Linked DNA regions of Homo sapiens: region 2 is linked to region 1. The links come from fine-mapping of genetic effects on gene expression. A gene starts in region 1. The other region holds a variant in brackets. All regions are shown on one strand. Distances are from middle to middle.

What was found.
Region 2: its variant is fine-mapped to the expression of PLK2 in whole blood (TOPMed, PIP 0.97).

The regions. Positions count from the first base shown.
Region 1 is chr5:58,457,932-58,463,313 of GRCh38, forward strand. PLK2 (polo like kinase 2) reads right to left here and starts at 2,155. Exons shown (of 14, transcript NM_006622.4): 1 at 1,759-2,155; 2 at 1,054-1,161; 3 at 794-910; 4 at 468-597; 5 at 153-240. The coding sequence starts at 2,028. RefSeq lists silencers at 151-445, 2,473-2,652.
Region 2 is chr5:58,252,895-58,258,276 of GRCh38, forward strand. No RefSeq gene overlaps it. Among named protein-coding and RNA genes, the nearest start is that of LINC02101, 130 kb to the left of the region's middle. The variant C/T (reference allele first, on the strand shown) is at 3,159.

The DNA.
Region 1 (5,382 bases):
CCATAGTGGGCATTTAATAAGTATTTCTTTAAATTAACATTGCTATGATTTATAGATTTTATTACCGGACCTCTGAAACATTAAATGCAAAATAATGAAGGCATATTTGGTCTCCACAAAAGTCTACTAGGATGCATCTTTCTGACTCTTACCTCCTTCTGTGTTCCAAGGGTTCTAGCCTGGCTGCCAGACCGAAGTCCCCAACTTTTAGTTCCATGGCTTCATTAATAAAAAAGTTCCCTAGACGATAAACAAAACAAAATGTGAATCCCTTTGAAAATGCGTTCTAACCAAGTACACACACATCCACTTTGGAGCCAGGCAGCCAATTGTTATATGAAAGTCGCCCATTCAAAAGCAAGATTGCAGACACGAGATCCCAATTAAGAACATTAATATGTAAAAAAAAACAGAGAGAGAAAAAAGAACTCTAACACAAAACTCAGCTTTTGGCGTCAATGACTTACCTAGTTTGAGATCTCTGTGCAAGATTTCTTGTTCATGAAGGTATTTCAGTCCAGACACAATCTGCCTGAGGTAGTATCGAACTTCTGGCTCTGTCAACACCTTTCTTGCTTTCAAAATATGAGCCATTGACTAAGAAGAGGAGAAGGAAAAAAGAGAATCTGTCAAAACAGTTATCAAAATCACTGGTTTCCCTTTGCAGGATGAGCAATGAAAGTTAACTTTGCAGTGTAAGTGCTGCCACAGCTAAAATCCCAGATAAAATACTCTTTGAATACCATGTTAATTCGGGGTAAGCAAATGTTCTCAAATAGGAGTTGACACTTACCCTTCTACTGCAGTATTCCAAGAGAATGTAAATGTTTTCTTTGTCCTCGAAGTAGTGGTAAAACTGCACTACATGCTTATGATGAAGAATTCTGTGAAGCTCTATTTCTTTGTCAATCTAAATGAAAAAGCAAGGTAAGGCTTATTAGCTTCCAGTCACCTCGGAAAAGCCAGTGATTACACATGCAGAAGACATTTTCCTAACAGGGAAGGGCCATCCTTGCACACAAAGAAAATACTTTACTCAAGAGTCATACGCACCTTTTCCCTTTGATGAGGTTTAGCTACTCTGCTGTGAGGAATAATTTTTGCGGCGTAGACTTTGTTATTTGTCAAATCTGTCATCTCGTAACATTTTGCAAAGCCACCCTGAAAGGAAACAAAGCCGAGACGGAATTGAGGATGGCACAAAAATGGACGGCAGATATTTTAAATAAATAAATAAATGGGAAGAAAGAAAAGCAAAAAAAAAAAAATTGAGGAATGGAGGAGGGTGGACAGAGGGAGGCATTCGACTTCGTTAAAGCTCCCTCATGAAGAGAAATGCATTGCTGGAAACAGCAAGTTCAAACAGTTTCTCTTCTTCTTTTATAAAGGGGAGCTTTATGGAGGGAGTTGGAACGGGGAGACATGAAAAATAATCTCTGATGAGACTTGTCAGGAAAATTCCCTGGGAGCAGATAGAGGGAGAGAGGTCTGATGTAGAAAGCCCTCGCTTCCAGACTCAAGATGCATTTCTCTGGGCTGCGGGAGACACACAGTTCTGAGGCTAAGAATGCAAAGCCGATCCCCAGCGCTGCCGGCGCACAAAAGCCAGAGGGCAGGTGAGGAGCCCACCTCGCGCTGGGATCGGACCCCCGAAAAACCCGGAAGCGGCGGGCGAGGGACCCCGCGGGCTTGCCCGGCTTGGGGTCGCCCGGACAGACCTCCCGCCCGCCCGGCAGCCCGGCGCCCTCCGCTTGTCACCTTTCCCAGCACTTTGCCCCGGCAGTAGCGCTTCCCAGTCGTGGGGTCGACGATAATCCGCGAGATCTCCGGCCCCGAGTGCGAATGGTGGTGATGGTGGTGAGGGGCCGCCGGGGGCACTTGCGCCTGGGACTGAGGTGGCTGCGATTCCTCGGGGGGCTGCGGCGGCCGCTTCTTCTTCGAGTCCGCTCCGCAACCCTTGCCCAGCGCCTGCTCGCACATTTTGGTGCTGGCGGCTGGCTGGTAGGTGATAGTCCGCAAAAGCTCCATGGTCGCCTTGCCGCCCCGCACTGCCCGCTGCCACCCCCTAGGCGCGGTCACACGTCCGAGCCGGCCGTGGTCCTCGCACCCTTGCCTCTGGTGCCGACTAGCACCCAACACCCCGGTCCACTTGTGCGAGTGAGAGCGCTCGGCGAAGTCTTATATACGGGGAGGCGGGAAGGGGGCGGAGACTCGATACGCGACATCACGTCACGGCCTATGCCCCGCCCCACGGCCGGCCGAGCGCGCGTGGCCGGGAAGCAAGTCTTGTCCCGCCACCCGGGTCTCGCTTCCCAGCGGAGCCGCGCGCCTCAAACGCCGGCCGCCGAGATCTCTTGCGGCCGCGGGAAGGCCTTCAGAGCCGTCCGTGGGCCCCGCTGTCCCGTTCTTCGAAGGCTCCGAGCCTCAGCGTACAAAACAGAATCGCGAGGGCCGACGCCTGGCCTCACCCCCGCCCCAGCCGCCTGGTGGCAGGGCAGTGCCGTGACCCGAGCGAGTCGGGCGCGGGTGTAGACGCAGTCCCTCCCCCGCACAGCCCTTCCCGGCCGCCCGGGGCCTCCTGTGTCAAGGTATCAGGGTGCCCGGAGCCCGCCGCACGGGCAGGCGAGGCCTCCTCCGGCCGTATGACAGGGCTCGTCTGCAGCTGCCCCGCAGTGCCTGCCCGCGCTGTGACGAGCTCGCTGGTGTCTAGCTGGGGCAGTGCCGAGAGGCCGTGGGGGTGAAAGGCCGGGATTCGTGGAGCCGGGCATTCGAGCCCATCGCGCTAGGGCAGACACGGGCCCGCAGCCGGGATCCCGGGCCGATCGGCCAACCGTGCCAGGATCCCACTCGAGGCCCGTCTGGCCCCCGCCCATGCCCCTAGAGCGAGCCTCTGTCTGAGGTCGGCCCCTGAACCTTGCAGAGCGAGGTCGGCGTCCTGGCAAGGCGTCCTCCGCCCGTAGCCCGAAGATTGGAAAGCAAGGGCGCCATCTTGTGGAATGTTCCGGAATGCCGTTAGGTGTCGAAGTGGGCAGCGGTTGACAACCGTGGGCCTTTGACAGTTACTAGTACTAAACATCGATGCCGATTGTGAGTTTCCAATCAGAGTCATCTATGACTTCTTCCGAATGCATCTGTTGAGATGGCTCATGAGCTGCCCTGGTTCCTGGAGAGTCAATCTGAGACTTTCTGGGGTAGGGAGATTGGTAGGATGAAGAGAGGAGCGTAGGCCAGTGAGTGCAAACACAGCTTAGTTTCCCATTTCCAGATTTTGCTGTGCAGTTTGACTAATCTAGGAACACGTTTTTTTGTTTGTTTTTCTTGTTCTAATTACGATAGAGTAACATTTATTGAGGACTGTGCAGTATTTTTAAATGCCTTATTTCATCCTACAACAATTCTGAGAGAAATATTGTAAGGAAGGAAAAATAATTTTCCACCTTTCAAAGTTTTGGCCTGGGTCGCTGTAACCAGACAGATTAACAAGAAAACAAAGAAGCTTATTAACATATACGTCTCATATATACATGGGAGATAACCAGGAAAATTAGAGATGGTTTAAAATCGGGCTTAAATACTATCTTTAGCTAAACCAAAAGAAAAGAGTGGGGCAGGCAAGTTAAGGAATCATGACCAGGAAATGTACGGTAAACAGGAGTGGGGTTTCTTATTTCTTCATTGATAAGTTTTTCATGATTTAGAGTCATTCTTCCTGGTACAGAGGAGACACTTTTACAAATGGAGTTTTGTGGGGTTTTTTTGTTTTTTGTTTTTGTTGTTTTTTTTTTTAGTGAATGTACGTTTCCCTTACGAAAGGGTAATATGCCATTTTTAGAGCATTTCCTGGGTCTGCTGGTTCTCAAAATAATTATCTTAAAATAATCTTTATCCCAGGGCCATATTTGGGGTGGCATATTCTCATCTCCTACATTATTATTCCCATTTTATAGATGAGGCTTGGAGAACTTAGGTAATTATTGTATATTTTTACTAGATCATCGAGGTTAGGTTAATTAGCAGCACACTTGAATCTTTTTACCTATGTTAACAGGATATGGTAAATAGTTTTTTGAAGCTAAATTCCAGAGAAATTTAGAATACCAGATTATTGAATCCCTGGAAGGTACATACAAAAAGTTGCTGCAGTCCACTGTCAAATTTAGGTATGTGTGGTATCAACATTAATCGAACATTTACAAAAATACTGTGTCTCAAATACTTCCAGCATAATGTGGAAAAGAGGCTTATTGCCATTAGAGAGGAGAAAGGGAAAGGCTTTGCCATTAGCGAGGAGAAAGGGAAAGTCTTTGCTGTCACTTCCGTTTTTGATTCTTTAAAGAGTGCAGGGCAAGTCCAGGCATGTTTCTCATAAGTGACAATAGACTTTAACCCCAAGATTGTCAGGGATGGAATAAGGGGTGGGGCTTAGGGGTGGAAATTCAGAATTACGTAATTATCCTCTTTATTCATAAGCCCAGGGGTGACCTTTGCTTCCCAGATTTGTGCAAACCTACTCTCTAAGATGTAGAAGGCTTGCAGGTTTAGAAAATATTACTAGAATTTATCAAAGCTAGTTTACACACCATGTCTTTATGGTTGATAATAAACTGTATATGTATACATATGTGTGTATGTGTATGTGTATTCATTTGTGGCCTAAGATAAAAAACTGAAGAATAGATTGTCATGATTTTTTTTTAAATGTCAATTTCTTCTTTGATTAGCATACACTATGGTATGTATCTTTACCAAATGGACTTCAGTATTTGATAAACTGTTGAACATTCCATGTGAAATTCAGGTCTGTCTGCCACAACATGGAGGCATTTAATAAAATATTAACGCTGTGTAAATCTTATGTTGTCTTCTTTCCGACTGAGAACATGATTTTTTTGGGGTTGTGGTGCCATCATGTGGACAGAACCAAAATTGTAGTCTATAGAACAAAAAAGGAAATAAATGCGCTTTCTATTAAGTAGACTAATTACTAAATATCATGGAGTCAATTTGGTAACCAGTAGGAAGGAAAAAATGGATCCATGCTTCATATCTGGCTTATTTTCAAGCAAATGAAAGTTTGAAATACGTGAAATTTTAAGACAATATGAAAGAATTCTTTCATAGCCTGAATGTGGTAGAACTTTCAACTATTTACAAAATCTAGAATCCCTAAAAAAAAAAAAAAAGCAAGATTCATTAATGTAACTATATAGAAACAAAACCCTTTCATTGATTTAAAATAACAAAACACCACAAATAAAGTCAAAGGATAAATAACACTGGAAAAATTATTTTCAACTCATCACAGAGAAAGAGCTTATCTTCCTGTTATATAAAAACTCCTACAATTGGATAAAATACCAATTATCCAACAGAAAACAAATG
Region 2 (5,382 bases), 210 kb before region 1:
TGTGTTAAATTCCACAGGAAATTCAAGACCAAATTAGGCCAACAACACACTCTCAAAATACTCGGGGACATACAAGGGCTAGGAATATTTAGATAAGTTCCCCTGTTTCACTTTCTCTGTGACACTTCGAAGCTGGCTCATTATCCCAAGTAGGTGCAAAGGCGATGGTATGGGAGTTCTATAAGGATAAGATCTATGTTTTGCCTATTGTATTTTGAGTTCAAGTGAGTAGTGGTTTTCTAATTGGGGTAATCACGTTTCTGAAAGAGGTTACATTTGACTTTAGAGTGGAAGGATAGTTAGCATTACAATAAATGAAAATGAAAGAGAGGATGGGCAAGAGGACAGAGGGAATGGCTTGAGCAATGTCCCGAAGAAGAAAAGCCAGCCAGTCTTCCAGACATGATGAGTATCCTGGTTGGCTTAGAATGTAGGAAAGCAGTAAGTAGAAGAAATTAAAAGGTCGAGATAAACTTAAGGATGCTTTGAATAACATGCTGAGGAATTTGAATAGAAGTCTCATAGGCAATGAGGAAGCTTCAGGTTTCCTCAAGATATCACTAAGACTGTCTTTAAGAACATTGATCTGGAAACAGTGTACAGGATTTACTAGAGACGGTCAAGATGTAAACCTCTTGCTATTTGGAAAATAAAGTTGTTCCATGGCCGTTGCAGGGAATAAATGAGGTAACCCACGGAGAAAACAAGAAAAATGTCTAGGTAATGGGGAAACAGCTAAGTTAATTACTAAACAGGCAGTGAACTACATCTGCATAATTTACCGGCTTTATCAATAAAATTGGAAGAAGAAATTGAAAAACAACAAAGTTGGGGTGGCATAAGATTGGAATACAGAATAACAGACATGAAGAGCATCAAAAGAGCATGGAAATTTGGGATCTGTTGTTAATGAGGATGGCACTGAGAAGGCTGGCCACCTCTGGAACTATTCTCTCTGTCTTGTCTTTTTCCATCATTTTCACCCTTTTCCCCAAATTCACAGATGCACTGGCAGTTTGTGTAGTGATTAGGAGAGTGAGCTTTGGAATCAATCCTACATGGATTTGAATCCCAGCTCTGTCAATTAGTCACTAGCTAATTTACCTTGGGCAAGTTACTTTACCTCTCTAATCCTCAGTTGAATGATTAGTAATATGAAAGTAACACAAATAATCTACACCATAGAATTATGAGCCTTGCATGAGTAAATGCATATAACACACTTATAAGAGTGTCTGCCATGTTCTGAGCACCCAGTTGTTATTTTTATTATTATCCTTAGCTAAACCAAGCTACCATTTTTTCTCTCCTGGCCATCCCTTATCAAAATCTTGAAAGTAGTCTTATCTTATTCCTCTAGTGATTGGCAGTTAGCCAATCCTCAAAACACAGCTCTAGCTCAAAACTTACTGGGACTATTGTTTTAAAGGTAGCCAAGGAGCATAGAGAAACTAAATGCAGTGACCTGTGCTTAGTCCTCAACCTCTTTGATCTCTCTCCTTTGAGCACTTCCATATCAGAGTTCCTCTCTCTATGACATACTGTCTAGGTTCTACTCTTATCTCCCTGGCTTTTACTTCAGTTCTTTCTGACTTCTCTTCCAGGTGAATAAATGTGGGTGTTACCCAAGATCTTTCCTTGACTCTTCTTCTTTCTCCATGATCATGCCCAGATGGGTTTTTGGTGTGGATGTCCTTTCTGTTTGTTAGTTTTCCTTCTAACAGACAGGACCCTCAGCTGCAGGTCTGTTGGAGTTTGCTAGAGGTCCACTCCAGACCCTGTTTGCCTGGGTATCAGCAGCGGTGTTTGTAGAACAGCGGTTTTTCGTGAACCGCGAATGCTGCTGTCTGATCGTTCCTCTGGAAGTTTTGTCTCAGAGGAGTACCCGGCCCCGTGAAGTGTCAGTCTGCCCCTACTGGGGGGTGCCTCCCAGTTAGGCTGCTCAGGGGTCAGGGACCCACTTGAGAAGGCAGTCTGCCCGTTCTCAGATCTCCAGCTGCGTGCTGGGAGAACCACTGCTCTCTTCAAAGCTGTCAGACAGGGACCTTCTCCAAAAGTTTAAACAAGTCTTCGTAGAACTATCTCCAAAATCTGCATCTGTAGTCTTGACTGACTTTCTTAACTCCAATACTACATGTCAACACCCCAACTAGATATTCTATATCACTATAAACTTGGCAAGTTCAAATCAAACCCAATTTGCAACCAATACACGCCTTCAGCCGTTTCATTTTCATTAGCAAAACTCTTTTAACTAGACAGCAAGAGGGGAAACCTTGTGGCTAATCTCATTAACTCCATCACATTTTTTTTCCTCCCTCACTCCAGTGTAAATAGTTGTCAGATCATATGAGGTGAACCTCTTCAGTGCCTCTCACATCCTTTCCAAAAGTTACCCTTGTAGCTCAGGTCTTGATTACCCCTTGTCTTGATTACTGTTTGTTATAAACCAAGTTCTCTGCCTCTATCACCTGACTTTCCCAAACCCTCCTAACAACTTTTGCCACATTACTTTCCCAAATGCAGTTGTGGAAAGGGGTCCTTGCTTCTTCAAAAATTCTAACTTCTTGAGGCTTAAATTATACTTCATAAACAACTCTATCATTAGGAGAATAGTCAGACATATTAACTATATATATGCTTGTCTTGCCTCCTCTACTAAAATTGAGCTAATTAAAATCAGATGTCATGCCATAGCATTGTATCCACTCATATTACAGGCAGTGCCTAAACACAAAATGCGTGTAATAAGTATGTAATGAACAGATTTTCTATTGAATAAGTGTATTCCCCTCCTTAAAAATCTACAATATGATTCCACATTTCTTACCAAGTAAGATAAAAACTTAACTGTAATGCTTTCTGAAACTTAGCACTAATCTACCTCTCCTACCTCTCCAGTGTTTTCTGTTTTTGTACCATGGTGTCCTATGAAACTGAAATACTAGTGTGCTTCACATTTCTTACCTTTCCTATTCTCCCCATGATATCCCTCAGTTTGGAATATCCTATTCTCTTTCCTTCCATAATTAAATCTTACTTAACTAAAAGCCTTCTTCTCATTTAAGCCTTCACTAACCTTTCCTTCTTTAAAGTAATTTCTTTTTCATCTGAAATTTCTTATGACTTAGCCCTCCATTCTGGTACTAAATGTATTC[C/T]ACATAAAAAGTGGCTACTTCTGTACTCATCTTGCCTATTTGGCTGTGAACTTACTGAGTACAAGGACTATGTCTGACTCATCTTGTATCTCTATTGTACTGAGAACAAGGTCTGGACCATTGAATACACTCAATTCATATCATGATGTTCCGGCTAAATAGAGCCACGGGAATCTAATACACATGGCCTCCTGTCCCACACACAACTCCTGGAAGTCAGGAAAGCCAGTCATGCAACCTGAGTGCATGACATAACCTTTCAGGACATCATTTTACCACCTGCAAAGAAGGTAAGATTTTGGAGAATATTTTAGGAACTGAGTCCACATAAAGCATTTATTTTGGGGTTCACTTATGCTAAATAATCAATAAATGTTAGATATTATTATCATTATTTTCTACAAAAGAGTGTCCTATTCACTCACTCTTCTAATCCATTCTTGCTAACCCTCCAGATTATTTATTCCAGAATAGTGTTGTGGTCTAGCAAGTCCCTACTTCAATTTCCTTTAACAACCCACTAGTGCTCAGTGAAGAAAATCTCAAACTCCAACCTCCTGCTCCTCCCCAAGAACAGGCCAGAAACTGAAACACTAATTTAACCTGTTTGCCTGTGGAAGAGCTGCTGGCCACTGCAGTTTATCTCCTTTCTCTTCCTCTCATGACCTACGGCAGTGCAACCACCATCTAGGTGTCTAGCTCAATATACAATGTGAGGTGTGGGGAATGGATAAAGGAAAGGCAAAGCCCCTTGAAGTCCAGGTTACCAGACTTTTCTGTTGAGACATGGAGCTATCTCAGCAATCAAAAGGAAAAAGGTAAAATGTATTATATGTATTTGTCAAGATTACCCAGCATCCAATATTGGTAATAGATATGACTGAAAAAAAAATGCTAATGGGCCTAAAACATCCACATCAAATTTCCATTGAGATGTACCTCATTCACAAGATAAAAAGAAATACACTTTTGGCTAAATACCAAGTCCAAGATTTTTGTAAAATAGTATGAAGTGTTTTAAAAAGCTCTGAAAGAAGCATCAACTTCTATCTAAGGTGGGAAGTCCTATTATTCATTTCCTGCCAGAATTTAAAAAAAAATCCTTAAATTTAATTTAAATTTAAAGAAAAAGTTTAAGGTCATCTCAACATCTGACTTCTTTGTAAGTCAGGTAAACAGAGAAGAAGAAGTCAAAAGAAGGAGGCATAATACTTTTTGCATATCATACTGATATGTCTTGTTTTGTACTTATAGTCAGCCATTTCAAAGAAGGTTCCTATTTAATATGTTTGAAATTTTCTCAAAGACACTGCATTAATAATTTCTCATTAAGGCTAGTGATATATTATTTAAGAACAGCATTGAGAGAGATGTAAAAAATTTAAACATCATTATAAGCAAACCGGCCAACACACATGCACACACCAATTTAAAATGTCCTTTAGTTTCTTCTTAAAGTAAATGAAAAGGCACATACACTATTTTCTAAGAAACTTTAGTCTATAATATATTTTTCTTCCACCAGGAATGTCTTTGTCCCATTACCCCAAGTAAGATTCCACCCTTTCTTCGTAATCTGCTTCAGATGTCACCTCCTTTATTGAGACTTTCCTGGTTCTCCCCAACCATAAACTATCTCCTTCCTCTGAGCCCCTATGGGGCTTGACCAATTTCGAGTCTGCAGTGGCCCGGGGTCTGCTGAATGACTTTCACAGGCCATTGGAACTTTTTGCCTTATCAGCCTCTTCATAATAAAATATTAAAATGATATTTTATAACTGATTGGTATGAACATAAATGAAATCTAGGCTGATTTTTTTTTATTATACATTCATTATTATTATGATACTTAATTTTTTCTTATTTAAAAAAATTAAAAGGAAACATTTTATGGGCTCCTAAATGCATCATGGTACTAGGCCTTCCATCCCCGCCTAATGGGTAACTTGGCCCCATCACTTTCACACCAGACTTGTGTTGTAATTATTTATGCATGTGCTATCTCCCCTTCTAGGAAAAGAGCTTTAGGTTAGAAGCCTGAAAACTCTTTATAGCAACTATCTGAAATAAGTTTATTGAATGATATACAACCTTCCAGGGTCTTTAGAGAAAGAACACTCAGGAATTTACTTAGTTCTGCATTTACTGAGGCAGGGTGGCTACCACTCTTTGGTATGACTAATTATGATTCCTACTTTTTTCCAGTGAGAAAGCTACATTATTA